2 separate regions of the Homo sapiens genome follow, and region 1 is linked to region 2. The links come from fine-mapping of genetic effects on gene expression. Tissue or cell type: tibial nerve. Region 2 holds a variant in brackets; the other region holds the start of a gene. All regions are shown on one strand. Distances are from middle to middle.

What was found. PIP is the estimated chance that this variant, and not a neighbour inherited with it, causes the effect.
Region 1: NUDT9 starts here. The variant in region 2 is fine-mapped to the expression of NUDT9 in tibial nerve (GTEx, PIP 0.95).

What each region holds. Positions count from the first base shown.
Region 1 is chr4:87,418,368-87,426,515 of GRCh38, forward strand. It overlaps NUDT9 (nudix hydrolase 9), which reads left to right and starts at 4,206. Exons shown (of 8, transcript NM_024047.5): 1 at 4,206-4,645. The coding sequence starts at 4,539. RefSeq lists enhancers at 3,975-4,024, 4,094-5,028, 5,572-6,075, 6,076-6,577.
Region 2 is chr4:86,690,041-86,698,040 of GRCh38, forward strand. PTPN13 (protein tyrosine phosphatase non-receptor type 13) reads left to right here. Exons shown (of 48, transcript NM_080683.3): 6 at 3,547-3,634. Among named protein-coding and RNA genes, the nearest start is that of PTPN13, 100 kb to the left of the region's middle. The variant A/G (reference allele first, on the strand shown) is at 4,980.

The DNA of each region.
Region 1 (8,148 bases), 730 kb after region 2:
GAGATAAGGACTGAGATACGCCTTGGTCTCTGGCAGTATCCTCAGGCTTACTAGGATTGGGAAACTCCTTCCTGGTGAATTTTTGGTCAGACTGGTTCTCTGCTCTCGAACCCTGTTTTCTGTTAAGATATTTATCAAGGCAATATGTGCACTGCTGAACATAGACCATTAACAGGAGTTCTGATTTTGCCCTTGTCCTGTTTCCTCAGAAGCATGTGATCTTTGTTCTGCCTTTTGCCCTTTGAAGCATGTGATCTTTGTGACATACTCCCTGTTCATACACCCCCTCCCTTTTTGAAATCCTTAATAAAAACTTGCTGGTTTTGCGGCTCAGGTGGGCATCATGGTCCTACCGACATGTGATGTCACCCCCGGCAGCCCAGCTGTAAAATTCCTCTCTTTGTACTCTTTCTCTTTATTTCTCAGCTGTCTGACACTTATGGAAAATAGAAACAATCTACGTTGAAATATTGGGGGTGAGTTCCCCCAATAGAAAAGAGGTTTAATTGGCTCACGGTTCTGCAGGCTGTACAGGAAGCATGGTGCTGGGCATCTGCTTGGCTCCTGGTGAGGCCTGAGAAAGCCTACAATCATGGTGGAAGGCAAAGGGGAGCTGACATTTTGGCGAGAGTGGGAGCAAGAAAGAGGTGGACAAGGTGTCATACATCTTTAAACAACCAGATCTTGCATGAACTCACTATCACAAGGATAGCACTATCACAAGGGATCCACCCTCATGACCCAAACACCTCCCACCAGACCTCACCTCCAACACTGGGGAATACATTTCAACATGAGATTGGAGGGGAGAAATATCCAAACTATATCAGGGAAATAGTTGGGATTCTGAATTACTCTTACTTTTAACATACTCATCAATTCTAATAATCACATATGTCACTTTCCTATTTAAAAATTCTCATTTCTCAGTGTTCTTGGTCTGTCTCACCAACTATTGCAAGATGCCCTTGAAGTTGGTATATGCTTCATAAATTTTTAAAAAGTCCTTACTTCTCCTTAAATTCTGATGACATCTGTTTAACTAATTTAGGATGTGGGTAATTTGATGAGGAGATGTTTTGTTTCTACCCAAGAGCAGGTTGCAGAACATGCACTCACTACACCTGAGCAGATGTGCAGTATGCATCCCTGAAGGGAGGAACCCAGGAGATCTGGCTGTCCCAGCTAATTGCAGTTTTGTTTCAGTGCCATGGAATTGGTTTTGTTTGTACAGTTGTTTGCACAGGTTCATCAAACTAAGTTCACGCTAGCCTCCCCTTAGGGAATATGGAGTTATAAGACTAGGGTCTGAGGAGCTTCCTGTGAGAACTACTTTCTGTTGCTCCCTTTCTTTGATTGTTGACTTTGTAACTCACTGCTTTTCTCCTGTCTTCTCTAGTGACTAATTTGTCAACAGACTTTGGACACGCTGAACTTGATGAACAGAGCCGGTCTAATACATTTCCAGTTTAAGCAGTGATTAACAACACTGAGAGCAAAGTTTATCTGACCAGAGGAAGCCGAGTACTGATATTTATCTTTAAAATGCACATTTCAATAATAGTACTTCTCAACCTGAGAAAGCAGTCAAAATAAACAAAGCTGGACACTAGTTAAAGCAGTAAGGACAGACTTTATTCAGTGATGCTAGTCCAATAGGGAAAAGAGTGTAATACAAACTAATCCCACACTTCCCTGAAACAAAAGGCTGTGGTATGCAAAAAGGAAAGGCACAAAAGGATCTTAAGTTTTGGGGGGTGGCAGGGGGGCACGGTGGTTTGTTGATTGATGTGATTAGGCCATTTGGGTTTGTTAACTGGCTCTTATCCAGAGGAGAAACAAACTTCTATCTTTATGATAGGAGGCAGTGGTGCTAGCTAAAGCAAGGTACCGGTCTTGTACAGGGACTAGGAGCTAGGGTGAGTTATCTTTCTGAATATTTGCATTTCAAAGAGATGGCTCCCAAGTCTTTGAGGAAACTGTGTTGGGTGGTAGACTTACATCACCAAGGGTAGAGAAACAAGCTTTCTAAAGTGACTGCTCTAAGAAGGGGTTCAGGGACCTATCTGCCTATCATCAAGTTTTGGCTGGAACAAACAGTAAATTCTCCAGGCATTGAGTTTTGATTTCAGGGAAGCATTTTAACGGGATCTGGGGTCAGCCTAGGGACAAGGCCTTAAGCTACTGGAAGCTATGCTAGAGTATAATCAAATCTCTCAGTGCCGAGAAAAGAACTTTTATATGAGGAAGGTAAATCCTTTTAAATTACCAGGCCCAGAGAGACATTAAAATGAGACAGCAATTACATCCTACTCCCCACTTTGTTATGCATTCATCTCTTTAAACTGCTTACTATAGCCACAAGTAGCTAAAAATTAACCTAATAATGGTACACTGGACACTGTAACTCGCACCCTATAGCTTAACGTATAGCCAACCACTAACCAATACTATTTCTACAAACCAGTAATTCTTTACAACTTTGTATCAGTCAACTCCCTGTCCCCTTTTTGCCTTTAAAAACCTGATTGTAACAAAGGTGGACAGGAGTTCACATTTAAGGTTACTTGGGTCTGGGTCTTCTGGGCAGCTGTCCTCACTTTGGCTAAAGTAAATGCTTTAAGTTCTATCTCGTGCCTCAGCGTCTAGGTTGACAGTGTAGTTTGAACAGTCAATACCTGTCGAGAGTTCTGCAGTTTTCAGAACAATGGTTGTTAAAATTCGATTAATCTGGCTTTTAAGATGGTCAAAGTTTTGTAACGTCGGTGTATTGGAACCACACCACAGAAACAGCGGATCATGTAAGTAAAAGTCAAATAGTTGCCACATCAATAAGCTAATATAAATGAAGTAAGCCTGATTACAAGCTGCTTTGGACAGTCTGGGTTTCCAACTTTGTTTGTCGGTTTGTTTAATTTTTGCCTCTCAAGTTTATTATCCAGTATTATGTGTGTTGCCCTCTGTTCCTCCTCCAGCATGTGTGCCTATTTTCACAGCTTTTCTCCTCCACGAGTTTCCAAGGGCCACAACTGGTCCTAGCAAAGCCTTGTGAATGAAATCCAGCAATTGGAGCAGACAACTTGGTTAAGAAAACAAAAACAAAAAACCAAGAAACCCTTCAAGATACGAGGGCTGAGTCTCTGGACTATCTCCTCTTGCTGTAACCGCCCAAGGGGTTCACCTTTCCCGCTTCCTAGACAGAGCTGATTCATCAAGACAGGGGAATTGCAATAGAGAAAGAGTAATTCATGCAGAGCCAGCTGTGTGAGACCGGAGTTCTATTATTACTCAAATCAGTCTCCCTGAGCATTCAGGGAGCAGAGGTTTTTTCTTTTTTTTTTTGATACGTAGTTTCACTCTTGTCGCCCAGGGTGGAGTGCAGTGGTGCGACGTTGGCTCACTGCAACCTCCACCTCCCGGGTTCAAGCGATTCTCCTGCTTCATCCTCCTGAGCAGCTGGGACTACAGGCGCGTTTACCACCATGCCCAGCTAATTTTTGTATTTTTAGTAGAGACGAGGTTTCACCACGTTGGCCAGGCTGGTCTTGAACTCCTGACTGCAAGTGATCCCGCCTCGGCCTCCCAAATCAGTCATAATTTTGCAAAGGCGGTTTCATTCCCATAACGAAGTATTATTCAAAAATATGGCTAAGACCTGCGTCCTTCCGCAACAACTTACTCCCTAAAAAAACCAGAGCAGGGCCAGGCGCGTTGGCTGAGGCCTGTAACCTCAGCACTGTGGGAGGCCCAAACAGTTGGATTATTTGAGCTTGAGAGTTGGAGACCAGCCTGGGCAACATGGCAAAAATCTGTCGCTACAAAACATACAAAAATTAGCCAGGTATGGCGGTGTGTGCCTGTAGTCCCAGCTACGTCGGGGGCTGAGACAAGAGACTCGCTTAAGCCCAGGAGGTTGAGGCGGCAATGAGCTGAAATCGCGCCCCTGCACTGCAGCCTGGGCGACAGAGCCAGACTCTTGTCTCAAAAAACAAAAACCAAAAACCCAGGGCAGCAAGTCTCTCTCAAACCCCTTGGCTTCTTTCCCACTTATTCCCGTTCCAGTTCCTCGTCTGTTTCACCTTTCCTTTCCTCTGACACTTTCTTGGTAGTTCCCTGCGTCCCCAAGTAAGCCTGCGCAGACTGGGAAGTCTGGGAAGTCGGAGAAGGAAGGCGCTACCAAGCCGGCAACGCACGACCTTTGCTTTGCGGCGCGGCCGTAAAGCGCCATTACGCAGAGAGAAAGTTACGAGGTTCGTGGCCGCGGTTTCCCCAGGCAGCTGGCGCTGGAGGCTTCGGCGTCACGTGCTGGTCTGGATTTTTCTCGATGCACTGGGGAAAGCGGTGGACTCTTATCGTGGGAGGGCTCTTGATCTGTGATTTATAGATAGGCACAGCTACTCCCGTTCGGGAACCCAACGGCAGACAGGTCCTAGTGCCCATCAGATACCCGCGGCCGGGACTCGGAGCTGTGGGGTGTGGGGAGGCGGAGGCACCAACTAAGAGCGACCTAGCATCGCAAAGCCGCCCTCGGGGCGCTCATGGCGGGACGCCTCCTGGGAAAGGCTTTAGCCGCGGTGTCTCTCTCTCTGGCCTTGGCCTCTGTGACTATCAGGTCCTCGCGCTGCCGCGGCATCCAGGCGTTCAGGTATTCCACCCTCCTACTACCGGCTCCTTTGCCCTAGACCTTGAGTTGGGGGTGGGAAGCAGCTTTTTTTTCTGGCGTATTCTGTAGGCTTTGCTTTGCCTCTCGGGTTTTTATAGTCATATACAAGTTTTCAAAAAGGCTCTAAAATATTTTATCTGCCTTTTGAGGAAAACGAGTGGCAGGGACCCTTCTTGACTTCTGATTTTGAAATTTGCCATTCTCTGTAAATCATTGTTAGTATCACGAGAGAGTTTAAATAGCAATTGTTTGGGGTGGTGGTGTCCCGTGCCATTTTTTTATGGTTAATACTTAAAACATTATTATTAGTATTAATACATGTACATAGTTAAAACAACTTGAAAATGTAAAATGAAAAGTAAAATCACTATTCCCCCTGTCCCCTTTCCAGGGTGGACAATATATTATATTTACTATCTACCTCCTTTTTTTTAATAATTTGTCTATTGTGGTTAAATTTAGGGATTTATGGTGTCTTACACTGCCTCCTTCTGTTCTTCCCTTCTCCAGTTTTTATTCTTTGAGTTAGTAAACACAGGGTCCTAGGTGCAGCAGCCTTTTCTTATTTTATAGATATTAAAAGTCTTGAATCTACAAAGATGATAATTAGAAAAATCTATTTCCTAAATAATTTACTTACTGTTGGTCAATTGTTCTGTGTCTTTTTGGTCCTGTTTCCTTCTGTTGCTTTTTCTCGAACATGTGATGGGCACTGGTTATCTGTCTATATTTTGATTAATATGAGTAATAGGTCTTGTTTTCAGTACATGGGTCGCTAATTGACTTTTGGCTCTGTACCAGGTTGCCTAGATAGGAAGGTTTCAGTTGAGGGCATGTGAGCAGGTACCAGATGGGTAGACTGGGAACCTGCCTTTTGCTTCAGGCTTTGCAGTAGTGGTGGAGCAACTTCTCTGCTGAGTATAGCTGTTTATTTCCTCCGTGTGAACTGTAAAATTATTAAGCCTAAGTTTCTGCTGTGTACTCTTAACACCAGTATTCACAGTAGGGGTCCTACCCCTTCATTTCTAAAAAACTTTTGATTTTATCTTGGAGACAAACATAACTATTTTGGACTTTTTGCTTGGAGATTGGGGAGGGAGGAGGACTGAGTGATTTCCATGGTTATTGTCGCGCTGCCAGTTTATGATCCTTGGGCCCACTGACTTCAAGCTTGAAACCTCTAGCTCGGCTCAGCTTGTAGGAATAGCATTTCTCCCTAATGCGTTTTTTTTTTTTTTTTTTTTTTTGAGAAGGAGTTTCGCTCTGTCGCCCAGGCTGGAGCGCAGTGGCGCGATCTCGGCTCACTGCAACTTCCGCCTCCTGGGTTCAAGCGATTCTTCTGCCTCAGCCTCTTGAGTAGCTGAGATTACTGGCGCGCGCACGCCCGGCTAATTTTTTTTGTATTTTTAGTAGAGACAGGGTTTCACCATCTTGGTTAGGCTGATCTGGTCTTGAACTCTTGACCTCGTGATCCGCCCGTCTCGGCCTCCCAAAGTGCTGGGATTACAGGCGTGAGCCACCGCGCCCGGCCTTGGTGCATATTCTTATTTTACTTTGTCCTACTCTGGTTTGTAGGTCAATATTCCAACAACTTTTCATTTTCCTGAAGTTGGTTACCATCTGTCATTCACTGGTGGCATTTATTCCTTCTCCTGGTACGGATTTTATTTCCCTTTATCTATCTTTATCTTCTTTTAGTGGGATTTGAGGAAGGAAGGAATACACGTGTGTGCTCTCTGGAAATCTCTAATGCTCTTTTTGTTAGATGCCAGCAGAACAGTGTAAAGTTGCTTGACAGTTATTCTTCGTTTTTGTAACTCTGGGAACCCTACATGAGGCAGGTATATCCAGAACCAGAGACTGTACTGACTTGAAAGAAAAAGCCAACAGTTAACAAATGTGCCAAGTACCTGGTAACTAATGTGGCAGAATAGCTTGAACCGGGGAGGTGGAGGTTGCAGTGAGCTGAGATCATGCCACTGCATTCCATTCTGGGTGACAGAGTGATACAATGTCTCAAGAAAAACAAAAAAAGAATTTTATGGCCAGGCACAGTGGCTAACACCTGTAATCCCAGTGCTTTGGAAGGCTGAGGCAGGAGGATCGTGTGAGGCCAGGAGTTTGAGACCAGTCTAGGCAACTTAGCAAGACCCTTGTCTCTAAAAAAAAAAAACTGGGCCTGGTGGCATGCATGTGTAGTCCTCACTATCAGTAGGATCAGAGTAGGCTCAGAGACTACTAAGTGATCAGTAGGATTGCTTGAGCTCAGGAGTTGAGTTTGAGGCTGTGGTAAGCTATGATCGCATCACTGCATTCCAGCCTGAGTGGCACAGCAAGACCGTGTCCCTAGTGTTCTTTTCCTTTTTTTTTTTTTTTTTTTTGAGATGGAGTCTTGCTCTCGTTGCCAAGGCTGGAGTGCGGTGGCGTGATCTTGGCTCATTGCAACCTCCGCCTCCCAGGTTCTAGTGATTCTCCTGCCCCAGCCTCCCTAGTAGCTAGGATTACAGGCGCCCATCACCATGCCTGGCTAAGTTTTATATTTTTAGTAGAGATGGGGTTTTACCATTTTGGCCAGGCTGGTTTCGAACTCCTGACCTCAGGCAATCTGTCTGCCTTGGCCTCTCAAAGTGCTGGTGAATACAGGTGTGAGCCCCCACGCCTGGCCAAGACCCTGTCTCTTTGAAAAAAAAAAAAAAAAAAAGAATTTTACCAGTCTTTGATAATTTGGAAAAACCCAGAAAGTGACAGTTTTGCACTTAGTTTTTGTGATTACTAGAAGGTTTCCAATGTTCATTTTCTTTTTTAATTGCTCTGTCACCTAGGCTGGAGTGCAGTGGTGTGATCATGACTCACTGCAGTCTCAACCTCCTGGGCTCAGTGATTGTCCCAGCTCAGCATCCTGAGTATCTGGTACTACCGGTGCGCACTACCAGGCCTGGCTAATTAAAAATTTATTTATTGTTTGTAGAGATGGGTCTCCCTATGTTGCCCAGGCTGGTCTCAAACTATTGGGCTCAAGTGATCCTCCTGCCTTGGCCTCCTAAAGTTCTGGGATTGTAGGTGTGAGACACTGCTCCCAGTCATCAAATGTACATTTTCTAGAAAAAAGGTAGTATATTACAAAGATGTAGTGAATGCTTTTACATACCACAACATACAAATCTTCCAGAAGGATCTACTGGTGATGTGTGTAGAATATTGTTTTATTCCTGTGAATGCATAAAACATATGAATGAACCAAAAATGAAATAGAGATAGTAAAACATAGTGTTAAGAGCCTGGAATTCTAAGACAGCTTGCCTAGGTTTGGATCCTGATTTCTACTCTCAATTGTGTGACCTTGGTAAACTTATTTACCTCTCTGGGTCTTAATGTTCTTATTTCCTTTTTTTTTTTTGAGACAGAGTCTCGCACTGTCGCCCCAGCTGGTGTGCAGTGGTGTAATCTTGGCTCTCTGCAACTTGTGCCTCCAGGGTTCAAGCGAT
Region 2 (8,000 bases):
TTCAAATTCTGCACAGTTTTTCAGTTGATAACAAACAGGCCCACAGATCTTCTAGACAAATGGTTTGTAAACTCTCCCTCAAGAAACCTTTGCGGTTCTATAGTGAAGGGAAATGTAGGAAGTAGAGGCCGAATAAATGGAGTTCTTGGTTGCCCATTTTCCCTCTTTAACTAGAGCAGCTCCAGTTTTATTTGATCTGTTTATATTTCTGCGTGTGATTTTTTTGAACAAAGGTAAAGCTATTAAAAAATCTTTGAAAACCATCTGTCCAGACCAAAGTTTCTCATATTGTTTTCAATATTTTTGTTTTAAAAATTCCTCTATGACCAAATAAGCTTGAGAAGAAACTATTTAAAGGAAATTAAATGTATTTTCACTGGAGAACTTCTTAGAACCTTTAATATACTAGACTATATTACTAACCTTCAAGAAGAATAGGCATGTAAATAAAGCATTTCCCAAACTTTCTTGGTCTTGGAGGTCTTTTTTTCAGACATTCTCATAAGACTAATATTCTTTAAAACTTCACTTTATGGATAAGGAAACTGATACCCAAACAACTATGGGATTTGAGTTTCCTATTAGACAGTCCAGGGACTTTTTTATTACACCACACTTTCTCTAAGACTTTTGTGCTGCTTGCTAATTTTACTCCTATAGTAAAATTGTGAGAGATATTTTTTTCTGTCTTTGAATGAAGAATTTTTTTTCTGTCACCATAGAAATTATATTACCTATCTAATAATTGCCCATATTACATATAAAATCTTCATCCCTTTAAGGTTTAGCATTTAGTTCTCTTTATTATAGTGGATCTTTATTGTTCATTTATGTATGAAACCTGTGCTAGGGATTATAGAAGATACAAATTTGAATAAAATATTTGATCTAGGAGCTCTTATCTAAAATGCCATAACCATTTGCTTAATTATAAAATGAAAGAAGGCTATAAAATGATACATAGTAAAAATTTTAACAGCTATGAGAGTTTAAAGGAAAAGGATACAAATTATGACTGCATTGAAAAATAGCACTTTGAAGCTGAGCATGGTGATGCATGCCTTTAGTCCCAGCTACTCAGGAGGCTGAGATGGGAGGACTACTTGAGCCTGGGAGGTCGAGGCTGTAGTGAGGCATGATTGCACCACTGCAGTCCAACCTAGGCAACAGAGTAAGGCCCTACCTCAAAAAAAAAAAAAAAAGTTAAAATTAAAAATAGCACTTCGAACTGTATCCTATAGGCTAGATAATCTCGGCAGAGGGAAGTGAACCTGGATAAAGGCTGTGAAATGGGAAAGCAGGAATGTTTGGGGAACAGTATGACATGGGGTGTATTGTGGGGTTATTTAATGGGAGAGAAAAATAGAAGGATCAGTTGGAATCAGCATGTAGAGAGCCTCTCTTCACAAAGACAAATTTTTACTAAGTATAATAATGCTCCCCTTACCTTTCTATTGCTCTTCCTCATCTCCTAGACATCACTGGGTAGAAGTAACTCCAACAGCTACTGTTTTTTAAGTGTTTGTTTACTTTGTGCCAGACACTATGCTAAGGGGTTGATGTGCATTATCACATTATTCATCATAACAACCTCAATTTAATAGAGATACTTTTATCCTCATTTTAGAGGGCATAAAACTAAGGCTAAGAAAGATTAAATAACTTGCACATAGTCACAGATACGGTAAATGATGGAGACATAATTGGAACTGGGGTGTTTTTGACCCCAGTATATTCCTTAAAGCTTTTGTTGCCTCCAGTAGCTGACAGAATGAGTTAGTCTTTCACTGGTGTGAAATTCATTCTGAGTGACCATCATTCTTACTTAACATTAATTAGCGTGAGTAAAAGTCAGCAAGCCAGCTTACTTGTCTAGGTTTTTCCACTGATTTAATGTTATAATATTTGGACCACAATTTTACTTATCTGCAAAATAGGAATAATAATAATATGTGTCAATCATCCATATTATTAAACTGTTGTAAAAGTAGTTATTTCCACATTAATGAGCTGCTTTGTGGTCCTTAGAAGTTTCTTTGCTATTTCTCCCTTTATTTATAATATGAGGATAATATTGTCTACCATATGAGGTTGTTTGAGGATTAAATAGCACAAAGTGTGTGCCTAGCATATAGTAACTGTTCAATAAACAACAGTTATTAATAGTAACTAACTTCAATGCAGGAATTTTCAAAGATGTGGGATGTTAGTAATACTGTCTTTTCAGTCACTGACAGTACAGTGTAATCTGGACTAACATCATTTATGCAACTTAACTGATAACATGATTTCAGAAATACTTCCATTTACAAGTCTTCTTATAGGTAGAAAACATAATGCTTGAGCCTTGAATATACCACCTTAGATGGGTTTTTAATCCATACTTCAGCAAAATTCACTAATGGAGCAATATTAAAACATTTCTGTGGTATGTGCGAGTTTGTGTGTGTGTAAACAAATATGTATGCATGCTTTTGGTGCTAGATTTAAGTAATTTCTCTTCACCATTCTCTCTTCTTCCATTTATATTGACATTTCTCCTCTATTTGGCCACCTGAATAAAACAGTGGTCTGTCCAGTTTTTTATCCCTTATAGTGTGGAGTTTGACCTAATTTGACATACTTTATTTCAAGCAGATACCCTTTGCTAAAGCTATTAAACTTTAAGATTACATTTTGTTTTAAAGGGAACTTAAAAGAGCATTGATTTAAATTTGTTATCCCTCAGAGCGTCCATTTAAAGACTTAGCATTTCTCGGCCAGGCATAGTGGATCACGCCTGTAATCCCAGCACTTTGGGAGGCCAAGGCAGGCAGATCACTTGATGTCAGGAGTTCAAGACCAGCCTGGCCAACATGGTGAAACCCTGTCTCTACTTAAAATACAAAAATTAGCTGGTGTGGTGGTATGCACCAGTAGTCCCAGCTACTCTGGAGGCTAAGGCATGAGAATCGCTTGAACCTGGGAGGCAGAGGTTGCAGTGAACCGAGGTCCTCCAACCTGGGTGACAGAGTGAGACTCCGTTATATTTAAAAAAAAAAAAAAAAAAAAAAGACTTAGCATTTCACAAATGTAATTTCTGAAGGGCAAGATCTATAAAATTATTTCTGAAAGTAATTTAAATTCCTCAATTCATAGTTATAATCAAGAGAAAGCTTTATTATACCAAAATTAATGTGGTTTTTAAATTATAAACTAACTTAAGAGTAGTTAGTGGTTGGGGAAAAAAGAAGACTTCAAGTTTACTGTTTTCAAATAGAACTCATTTTAACAAGTTTAATCTGATGGTATTTTCTAGTTAGTAGGTTACTCTTCAGTCACTGCTTCTTCCCTTTTAATTTTCTGAAATGAATTGGCCAGCACTGGTCTACATAAATCTTATCCAAGAATACAAATTACCCTACAAATACAATAGGACATAGAGTCTCATTATTTAATGTTACATCCTCCAAAAACTGTGTAACTAGTGTCATTCTGTAAACAGTTACCATGAAAACAAAAGGGAGATCCTTTTGTCAAACTTGATTTTTTATTACCTGTGTACAGACAGATCAGCTTTCCTGTAACAGTGAACAAAAGCCTGATCGAAGCCAGGCTATTCGAGATCGATTGCGAGGAAAAGGATTACCAACAGGTAAGAGTATATTAATAGGAAATGTCTAGGCTTTAACCTTATCCCATTGTTTTCTTTACAAAATTATACTTACCTGGCTTTGAAATCTGGTAATTGAGACTATGATTAGAACGTAAACGTACAAACTGGAGGTAGGGAATGGGCAGGAACACTAGCTACATTAAAAATAATTTCATTAAACTTATACAGAAAACATTATTAATATACTTAGGATTCCCAGAGTAACTTATTTCCCTTTCCAGTATTGGTATATCAATAATAATAATATTTATTTACTTTATCGTGGTATTTCATATTAAAAATACTTTTTAAAGCATGACTAAATAAACACATGTATATGTTTATGAACATAAACACTACTGAAACAAAAGTTTCAGAAAACGTTTTTCTTACTGCACTCTGATATTTTTTATCATATTTCTTTTTTTTTTTAAATGCTAGTAATAACTCACTAAATAGATTTTATCATGGAGTTATCAAATACTACCTTAGGTCATGTGATACTTAGTAAATAAAAACTAATGATGAGTAGTGATTTTGCTATTTGTCAATAGCATTATATAATTCTGTATCCTATGATAAGTATTAAATTTATTTTTTTGAAAGAAATGAATGGAAATTTCAGGCCAGGCGTGGTGGCTCACGCCTGTAATCCCAGTGCTTTGGGAGGCTGAGGTGGGCGGATCACCTGAGGTCAGGAGTTCGAGACCAGCCTGGCCAACATAGTGAAATCCCATCTCTCTAAAAATACAAAAATTAGCCGGGCATGGTGGCAGGCACCTGTAATCCCAGCTACTCGGGAGGCTGAGACAGGAGAATCTTGAACCGGGGAGGCAGAGGTTGCAGTTAGCCGAGATCACACCACTGTGCTCCAGCCTGGGCAACAAAGAGTGAACTTCTGTCTCAAAAAAAAAAAAAAAAAAAAAAAAAGAATGGAAATTTCAAACACTTGAAATAAAAGTAAATATAATTTTATGTGACAATTTATTTTTCATTGCTACTTTCAGGCATGGCTTATTTATAAAATAAACTTTTGATTTTGTTGATTATCTTTGTTCTCTTCTTATCAAGCAGTTTTGAGAATCATGATAATCTAAACATTAACAGAAATACTTTTTTAGATCTTGTCCTAGATCTTGGGGCTAGGTAGAAGTAAATGTACAGATTGCTTAAATATATTCTAACAAAATATATTCTAATTGATATAGCTTAATAAAATAGATTAAAAAGTTAAGATTTTAATTTAATCAGAGCATCAGAGAAACCTGTCTTACTTAAAACCTATGAGCAACTCTAATTGTGAAAAATAAATGTAGACCTTGACTATCTGGACCAAATGTTTTAC[A/G]GAGTCAGAACTCTCATATCTGAGAGGAAGGAATGTGTAAGTTAAAGAAAAGCAGTAAAATTGTTTCTAAGGGAGTGATTTTGTAATGGTACAGTTAAGTATCTGTTTTGGTGCTTCCATTTTAATTATTGTGAATAAAGACTATCTGAAAAGATATTTTAGCTTTCATTTCATTGGTATAGTAATTTATTTCTGGTTAGATCAGAGTTTTTTTCTAATGCATATATGATTAGTTTATATATGGGCCAAAAAAATAACAGTGTGGTAACAATTTTGAAAGTATTTTTCATCCTTTCTTGCAAATATTTCCTTCCTATACTTATGTCCCCATACTGTACTTTTGTCACTTTCTTTTTGTAGGTAAAAATATGTTTATTTTTATACTATTCTAGGATTTGAGATAGTATATAGTGTAAACTTTAGCACTAATAATAGCAGCAATTTGTTAATTGATCAAATTTGCAGTCAGTCTCCTATTTTAGAATCGAATAATAACAAACTTATAGATGAATATCAATAGCAAGCTGAAATAATCTTTTGGGAGACATAGTGAACATTTTAATAAGTAGAACATTAGATTTAAAAGACATTTTTGTTTTTCTTACTTATCTTTTTCTATTTTCTCCCTCTCTTTCTTTGCTCTCTCCACCTCCCTCTTTCCTTTCCTCTCTCCCTCCCTCCTTTCTTATTTCTCTTTGTTATTCTTTCTCTAACCTCTTTCAGCAGTTCCCTACTATCATTTCCTACTACCATTAAGTGGCCATGTTATGTAGTTGAAGTTTATTTGCTTATGTGTTACTTCTTGATTTAGTAACTGTAATGTTGTATTATTAATTTTTGCAGACAGTGTATTTTTCTAAGAATAAAAAATATTCACATATGATTTATTTATGTATATATGACTTCCATCCTATCTCCCTTTCCAGTGTGGGTCTGTAGAAAGAAAAAGGTGAGCCTTGCAATATTTATCAAATTGTAAGGATTATCAAATGCTAACATAATTTAGATTTTATTACTTTCAATGGTTCAGAGGCTTAATGTTTCAGAAATTAATTGTTACATATTATTTTAAAGATAGCAATTAAGAGATTATACTGAGTCTATACCTACTTGATAACATATTTTTAATAGGTTATTTGTCATTTACATATATACGTATATTTGTTTCATAAAGGACATTCATAAAAGTTAAGCTTTCTGGACATATAGATGCTGGGGATAGGGAAAACCTATATTAAGTTCATTAGTTTTTATAGGTGTTCAGTGTATATTTGTTGACTGAACGAGAAAAGGTTTTATGGAAATACTGGATTTTGAAGTGTAATATATTTGTAGTATACTTCTTTAATAGCTCCATAAAGAAATATGTGAGACTATGGTTTATTTATTTAGCCTATGTTAAACATTAAGTTGTATGCAAAAGAAAAATAAAACATCTTGCCTCATATTATTGGACCATTTTCTTATTATAACAATAAAAACATCAGAAATTTTAATCCAGATTTTAATGCCTTTTATTTGTGATTTTGTTTTTATAATACTAAGAAAGATTTAGTATTATTGTCTAATAGTTCCTTAGAATTCTTATTATTAATATGCTGTTCTAATACAGATAAGGAAGCGTTGACTGTCATGACTTTACAAAATTAACAGAGAAATCAAATCCTTAAGTAGATTGTTTGTTGATTTTATCCTCTAATAGTCATATTGGAGAATAAAATCTCCCTTGTATCTAAACTCAAGAGAATTTGTGAGTAATTACAATTAGTCACTCAGGATTAACCAAATTTTGTTTGTGTTTCTATTTTTTTTAGTAGAGTTAAAGGTCCTAATACTGAAATAATAGTCTTATTTGGATCAAGTATAAGGGGAGAGTATTCTTTAGACCTTCTTAACCATCAGTGCTTTGCACAGTAGTATTGCACAAGTGCTCTTTTCATTTACCTTTTACAAATTCATAAAACCTCATTTTAAGGACAGAACCAATATAAATATACTAATTATAGCCATTACCAGGCAGAAGCATTCAGCAGCTAATAGTCAACTGCATAGACTAATTTTAAAAGTTTAAGATTGAAAAAAAAATTATCTCTTGAAGAAGTAATTCTTCTAAGACACCTAGGACACTTGGCAGTGCCAGTTCTTAACTGTCAGTGGTCAATTGCAGCAAAGCAACCTTGTGATACATTATTAATAAAACATTTTCTTCAGTGTGCACCAACCTAAAATCTGTATGTGGTGATAGCATTAGTTTATTAGGCTCCTGACTACAGGAGTAGTCTTTAATAAAGAAAATGTTAAGATGGACAGGGAGATACAGAATTAGATGGAAAGATGTATGCAAATTTGGGGATAATGCCTTATACCTAGTGATTTAATTGTTCAGCTCAAATGTAATAAAGATTTTTATCTATAAGTAAATGACCTTAAAAGGTCTCTTCTTATATCTTACCTCCAAGATCTGTCACAGAAGCTAAAGCCTAAACTAGTGGGCTCTCTGACCCTACTTTGTTACCTAATACTGCCAGTGCTGATTAAATAGCTTCACTGAGCAGAAAGAAATCAAACATTTCCTGCCAAGCTTAAGGTGGAAACTTACACTATTATTCAGATCAACATGGTGGTGCTTTAGAACTTACGCATATTAGTAATATCATGTTTCTTTCTTTTGAAACGCACTTGGACACATTTGTGAGGATACATGGGGACTTGGGGAGCCTCTTTTAATATTGAAATGCCATTTCGAAGTTTACTTCTAAGAGATGTGAATTTTTGAGTCTGGGTGAATTGAAAGGTAAATGATGATATCCAGTGTAGGATAATGTTAATCACATATAACAAAAATAGTTAAAACACAATGTAATTTACAAGGAAGTTTTTTCTAAAATTTAACTAAAATAAATGGGATGTGTTCTATTACAAAGACTTTTTATATTCTTGAAATCTTACCCAAGGAATACAAATATGAAATCTTTTATTTGTAAATAAAGTATATTTATTGTTTGCCATTTAACTTTTAGC